Linked DNA regions of Homo sapiens. The protein of the gene in region 1 purifies or fractionates together with the protein of each later gene. This does not show direct contact. Each region holds a gene or a part of one and is shown on either strand. Other genes may lie near its edges.

Region 1 (3,500 bases):
TCAACCCCGTGATGTTGCCTGTGGGCCCGAGTCTTGCTAGTATAGTCTCTTAAAGGGCCCCAACTACCCAACCTCAACAGCACACAGCATCCAGTCATAATCCAGCACATGCTCTATTCTAATACAAATACTGTGGAGTGGGCAGGAAACTTAAAATCAAGGTTCAGATCCTTAAAAATTAAAACAGGCCGGGCACGGCTCACGCCTGTAATCCCAACACTTTGGGAGGCTGAGGTGGGTGGATCACCTGAGGTCAGGAGTTCGAGACCAGCCTGCCAACATGGTGAAACCCGTCTCTGCTAAAATTACAAAAAATTAGCCGGGCGTGGTAGCAGGCGCCTGTAATTCCAGCTATTCGGGAGGCTGGGGCAGGAGAAATGCTTGAACCCGGGAGGCGGAGGTTGCAGTGAGCTGAGATCACGCCATTGCACTCCAGCCTGGGCAACAAGAGTGAAACTCCGTCTCAAAAAAATAAATAAATAAATAAAATAAATAAATTAATTAATTAAAATAAAGATGTGGGGCAGTAAGGCTGTTCACTTTCCTGGTTGGATTGTACTGGAAGAGGCTTTCAAGATGGCATCTTACATTTATCAAGTACCTTAACAAGTCTCACACTCTGGGCCAGTAATCCCACATTTAGGAATGACTTGAAGGGAACAGAGTTCCCATCAAAGATTTATATATAAGACATTTATTGTTTCATTCATTAAAAACAACAAAAAATTGGAAACATCCCAAATGAGTAAACATCCCTATTTGGAATACCAATAAAAATCTTGTTACTTAAGACTGTTTAGTGATACAGGAAAAGACTGACAATATAAACCCACATACACAAATCAAGAAACACAAAATGTTATCAATCATTATCTCTGGGCAACAGGATTATGGGTGACTTTGTTCATCACACATTTCCTATTTTCTATACTGTGAAACACACGAGCTCTATCACTGCTATTCCCATGCAAGGCAATTTTGGAAAAGGAGAACTACTGGCCCCAATCCGCCCACCTCAACCCAGCCTGGAGTAGGCTGCTTTTCTAAATAAATTCACGCTGGCACACAGCCAAGCCCATTCATTAGCTTATTGTCCGTGTTTCTTTTGTGCTCAAAGCGGAGTTGAATAGTTACAACAGAGACCATATGGTCTGGAGAGCCTCCTGGAACATTTACTATGTGGCTATTTACAGAAATGTTTCCCAACTCGACTGAGACGATTCCATTAGTTCAAGATGGCACAGACCTCTGCCACTCCCTCCTGGGACGGAGCTGGTACTTGAGGAGGCATTCACCCTGAACCATGGGCACACTGAGGGTGGGGCCCTCCTTCTGAAAGAGACAAAACACATTCATGGAGAGAAAGAGAGGGGACGAGAGCTGGGCCGACAAGGGGCCGGTCTGAGACACTACCTTACAGCGGAAACTGGTGAGCAGGGGGAAGATGTCCGGGTGGATGAGGTTGAGCTGGGTTTGAATCTTGTGGCTGCGAAGGTTGTGAACTGAGGCACAGTTCTCATTCAGGACCAAGTGCTGGGTGTCAGGCCCAAACCTGTGAAGAAACAGACCCGGCATTTGCAGCGTCTGTTAGGAGGCAGCTCCCCCTGAGGAGTGGTGCTGAGCTCAGGAGTGGTAATGAGGATGAGGTGTTCAAACAGTTCAGTGACTTGCCCCAAGCAGTGTTACTACATGGCCAAACATGGTCCCACTCCTGCTGTCTCAAAGCCCGGTGTTCCCTAGCTCAGCTGCCTTTCAGGTGTGCTGGGAAGAGTGAGAGGAAAAACAAGAAAAAGAAGATGTCCAGGGCATACAAATAGGGGACCCAAACCCTGAGGAATGAAAGAGACAGCAGGAGAGCAGGCCATGGAGTGAGGGGCAGGTAAACGGGCCATGTGGGGAGATACGGGCAGGGGCCAAAAAGCAGCCCAAGGTCACCCCGCACCCGAGCTCAACTCATACTCCTCCACCTGGCCCTGGCCAGCGATGCCCCGAGGAAAAAGATGCCTTCCAGTGACTAAACATCTACCTCCCAGGGCTGCTGGCGACGACCCTAGAGGAAATGAAGTGAAATGAAGGGTATTTCACACACTGCCTCCCACAAAGTGGGCATTCAGTAAATGGAAGCTATCATTTTATAGCTGCAATCTCTTCTTTGGAATTCACTTATGGAATCCTCAACCAAACGGCAGTATTTGTTCAGACACCCTGAAGAGTGTGGAGGGTGTAAAATAAATGGAATCGTGTGGACACTGCGCCACCTAGCGGTGCATTTTCTTCACGAGTGTAGCACAGATCTGGGAAGCCTAGAATTCTGGGAAGGCAGGAATCCCACAGAAAGTTTAGGCAGGTGCAGAAGGGTAGGTAGCGCTGGAAAGAGCACGAGGGGAGGAAAGGGGAATCCACCACTGCCCAGAAGAGTTACCCCAAGTGCCGCTGGGCTGGGCTCCATACCTCTCCATCCACTGCTGGTACCTGCTGTCCACAAGCACAGATGCTGGGGCCATGTGAACCACCAAGGCCACGGGGGCATCTGCCTTTCCTTGGTACCTGGGCAGAAGAGTGGGGCTTTACAAAGTGATGCAGACTCAGGACACACCAAGACAGGGACCACGCAGCCAGGGAGGGGTATCGTGCGGCCCTCTGCAGCACTGCAGTGAGCTGACAGCCTCCACGCCCAGGCCATGCTCTCACAGCAGGCTGCTCACGGCAGACCCCGGTGCTGGGCCATTTCCAATGGACGTGGGATTCCTGTATCTGGCAAGCTCTGCTCTGGGCTTTCCAGTAGGCCTGGCTGATCCTTTCTCAGCACTGCACTTCCTTCCTACCCTCTCCACTCATACGGGTCCAACCTGCAAAGCCAGACCCAGGCTCTCCCTGCCTCCTCCTGCTCCCTCTCTCCTTCCTCTCTCACAGTCAAATTTCCTCGAATAAACCTCCTGCACCTCCAATGCCACCCTGGTGTCTGCCTTCCAGAGGACCTGAGACACAGGCACGAGAAATGAAAATCATCTGAAATTTCACCACCTGGACAACAGACCACTTACTAACATGCTGATGTGTTTCCCTCCAGTTCCCTTTAAAAAGAAATATACACAGTAGCTATTTTTATCTATCCCAGCATCATCACACATCCACACATGGCTCTCAAATGACACCTGATTCATTGAAGAGGTTTTGCTGCCCAAAACTGGATTAAAATACAAAGCCGGGGCTACCAGCGCATCCAAATTCACCCACAGAGAATAAAGCAGACCATGAAACAACTCCTAACGCTCTGACTCGGAAGGGGTACAGCAGCCCAAAAGGATTTGTTGTGGTAAGTAGAAAAAAACAAGTGAAAAAATACAGATAGATACAAACTAGGAACAGGAAAAATACAGGTAAACCATTAAGAGTGGGGGAAAAGATTCAAACTCAGATAGGTGGGTCAAAGATGATTCCATCTGGAATGAAAGCTGAACCGCAAAACTGGTTAACTTCGATAGAGGACAACAACAGAG
Region 2 (3,500 bases), on another chromosome or scaffold:
AGGACTTTACCAAGAAACTAACATTTACACTTTCTGACGGAACTGAAATACACTGAATTACAGGCATATTCACTGAAACAACAAAAAAAATTCTGTCCATGTAAAGGCTATATTTTTTACCCCCAAAAAAGTGTTTCAATTCTGATACTCACACCACAACTGGTTAAGAAAATAAAGCGCAGTGTTTAGCAACTGAGCATCCTAACTACCGTAAGAGGCACTCTGTGCTCACCCCTTCCTGGCAACCGCTGAGGTCAGCAAGGCCAGGAGCAAGGAGAGCCTCCTATTTTTCAACACAAGCTGCTGCCGTCTCCTTATTAAAGCCCCGGATGGAGAGATCATAGACCACTTCCTCTACTTTCTTCACGTCATATTTCAATCCGTCGTAGCGCTTCCTCAGGGAGTCATTTTTCAGGTTGAGAAGGCGAAAACCGGAATCCAGCTCATTGATGAAGGTGGAGATGTGGAGGGGTCGGGAGTAGTCTCCAGCAGTCACGCTGTTGACAGACAGCCTCGACTGTACCAGGAAAGAGAAAACAGGGGCTTGTTACAACATGGCTCCTTCTCAGCGCATCTTCCTCTGAATCACAACCAGAAGAACCGCAAGCCTAGACAGCCACGCTGATCTTCTATCTCAGGGTACACACAAGTACAGACAAGACAGGAGCTTCTCTGAAAAGAATCCCACTGAAAATGAGACCAGTTCTGCCAAGTAAAATTTAACATTACTAACATCTAAAATTTCTCTAATTTCTTAAACTGGCTATTGCATAATAAAGTGTTACATTACACAAGCATCTTTACAGCTCATCTGCTATCATATCGAAGAAAGAAACGACAAAATAATCACAGCAGCTCCACTACCTCTTCCAACCTTGGCCAAATGATCACATTTCTAGAGCCCACCTACTAAGCTGCAACTCCAGTCACCTAGAATCAAGTAAGGCAGACTTGGGATAAGAATCTAAAATTATGTTAGTGTAACCCTGTCTTGAAGGAGAACTAACATTGATTTCAAGACCCAACCCAAGACTCCCCTTCTCGGTGTCAGTATACAACCCCCTACTGCTCCATTTGACTGGCTTTAAAAAATATATTAAAATAATAAAAAAGATTCCCCTTTCTGTAAAATCCTCTCCACTTTTCCAGGCTTACCCCTTTAGTGCACTGTCAACATACGGGTTTTTTGTTTGTTTGTTTGTTTTTAATATAGAGAAGGGGTCTTGCTTTGTTGCTTAGGCTGGTGTGGAACTCCTGGCCTCAAGGGATCCTCCCACCTTGGTCTCCAAAACTGCCAGCATTACAAGCGTAAGCGACTGTGCCCGGCCCCAACATGTATGGTCCTAAAGACACCTTACACTTAACTAATACTAACAAGATGCTTCCTGTTTACTGGTCAGGTGTCTCCAACAAGCCAGACAAGTGGTACAGCCTACAAGTGGACCCCATCATCCATTCTCACCATCTTCCTCAGGTTTTCAATGCACACATACCCACTCCAATAGACTCCATTTCTGCCTCCCTGCAGGCAAGGCACCAGAATGTTAACAGAAGTTGTGTGTACAACTTCAAAGAAATGTCCTTAAAGCGGGAGGGCATACCATTTTCCCTATTTCCTCCTACTGCTGGCTAGAGTGAAGATGTGACTAGAGCAACAGTTCTGGAACATAAGAAAGAAGCTGAAGCTAGAAGAACCTAGGGCCAAAGATCAAGGAATCATCAGACCAGCCCTGGACTGCTTTCCTCTGGAGCAAGGACAAGCAAACTTTTTCTTAACGAGCCAGATAGTAAATATTTTCACCTCTGCAGACTGGCACAGTCTCTATCACAACTACTCAATTTTGCTACTGACAGCTTTTTTTTTCTTTAGACTTTTACAGGGCAATTTCCCTAGATAGTGGTTAAAGGAATAAAGGATAAGAATAACTTAGTTATATAGACAAATGAGTGTCCAAAACAATTACATGGATTAACAGTTACCAGGAATAAATGTTTTGCCACTACCCTAAAAGGAAGAGGTCTTATCATCGGTTAAAAATTCTTAACTCAGTAAGTATGCACTCATCATTTGATCTGGCTTTTCTCTGATGCCTAGTAAATTGTAACACATACAGTGCCAGTCAGTGACTACCTGGTGACCGAGAGATGGCTTAGAAAAGAATTAAGACGTTCTGAATTTTGGTACCCATTTTAAAAACAGACAGTGGGCCAGGCACAGTGGCTCACGCCTATAATCCCAGCACTCTGGGAGGCCAAGGTGGGCGGATCACGAGGTCAGGAGATCGAGACCATCCTGGCTAACACGGTGAAACCCCGTCTCTACTAAAAATACAAAAAAAAATTAGCCGGGTGTGGTGGCGGGCGCCTGTAGTCCCAGCTACTCAGGAGGCTGAGGCAGGAGAATGGCATGAACTCGGGAGGCGGAGCTTGCAGTGAGCCGAGATTGCGCCACTGCACTCCAGCCTAGGCGACAGAGCGGGACTCTGTCTCAAAAAAAAAAAAAAAAAAAAAAACTGACAGTGAAGCAGAAAGATCAAAAAAGCAACCAGCAAGTTACTGAGCTTACCAGTTCACTGGCAAGAATTAGAACTCCTGAGAGATAATCTTCTACATCCAGATGAAATCCTTTCTCCCGATCTGGCTCAACTAAAAAACACATGAAAATAAAGTCATGCTGTGAATGCAAGTTAAGCCTCAGAATATAAAAATATACACATAATTTCTCCCAAAGTAAGTGAAGAAAGGATGAATCTTTTAAAAACTGGCTTTTTAATATATTCACAACCTTGGCAACTAGACCTCACTATGGATTTTTTGAGTTCTTAAGCAAAATTCAATTCAGTCTTCCCTCAAAAATACTATCAAAAACAGTATCTAGTTGTGTCACAGAATATACTTCTTGTTAGAAAGCACATGATAAAGCATTTCAGAAAGGAGTTACGATATTTGCAACTTTCAAATGGCTGACAAAGACACACACAAAATGAGAAGATTAAGCAGATGTAGCAAAATGTTAACAAGTGGTAAATCTAAGTGGCATGTAAACAGGTATTCATTGTACTATTCTTTCAATTTTTCTGTAGGCTTGAAATTTTTAAAAATTCAATTTTAAAAACTAAAGCAAGTGCAAATGTGTTTGCCATTGTTATTTTTAGCTTTTACATTTCCAGGTAGAGTCGGCCCTCTGCGCTAACCAACTATGGATAGAAAATATTTGGGAAAAGGCCAGGCGTGGTGGCTCATGCCTGTAATCCCAGCACTTTGGGAGGCCAAGGCGGGCAAATCACGAGGTCAGGAGTTCAAGACCAGCCTGGCCAACATGGTGAAACCCTGTTTCTACTAAAAAAATACAAAAAATTGGCTGAGTGCGGTCACTCACGCCTGTAATCCCAGCACTTTGGGAGGCTGAGGCAGGCGGATCACCTGAGGTCAGGAGTTCAAGACTAGCCCGACCAACATGGAGAAACCTCATCTCTACTAAAAATACAAAATTAGCCGGG

What was found. The genes of interacting proteins can lie anywhere in the genome.
Region 2: the proteins of ELAC2 (region 1) and TSN fractionate together in Homo sapiens (co-fractionation; one large-scale study listed by BioGRID). This does not show direct contact.

What each region holds. Positions count from the first base shown.
Region 1 is NC_000017.11:13,001,028-13,004,527, forward strand, and holds part of ELAC2 (zinc phosphodiesterase ELAC protein 2), read right to left. Parts: intron 2,548-3,500; coding exon 2,452-2,547; intron 1,553-2,451; coding exon 1,414-1,552; intron 1,333-1,413; coding exon 1,247-1,332; intron 1-1,246. UniProt on the Homo sapiens protein: Zinc phosphodiesterase, which displays mitochondrial tRNA 3'-processing endonuclease activity. Involved in tRNA maturation, by removing a 3'-trailer from precursor tRNA.
Region 2 is NC_000002.12:121,762,151-121,765,650, reverse strand, and holds part of TSN (translin), read right to left. Parts: intron 2,647-3,500; coding exon 2,567-2,646; intron 518-2,566; coding exon 284-517; 3' UTR 1-283. UniProt on the Homo sapiens protein: DNA-binding protein that specifically recognizes consensus sequences at the breakpoint junctions in chromosomal translocations, mostly involving immunoglobulin (Ig)/T-cell receptor gene segments.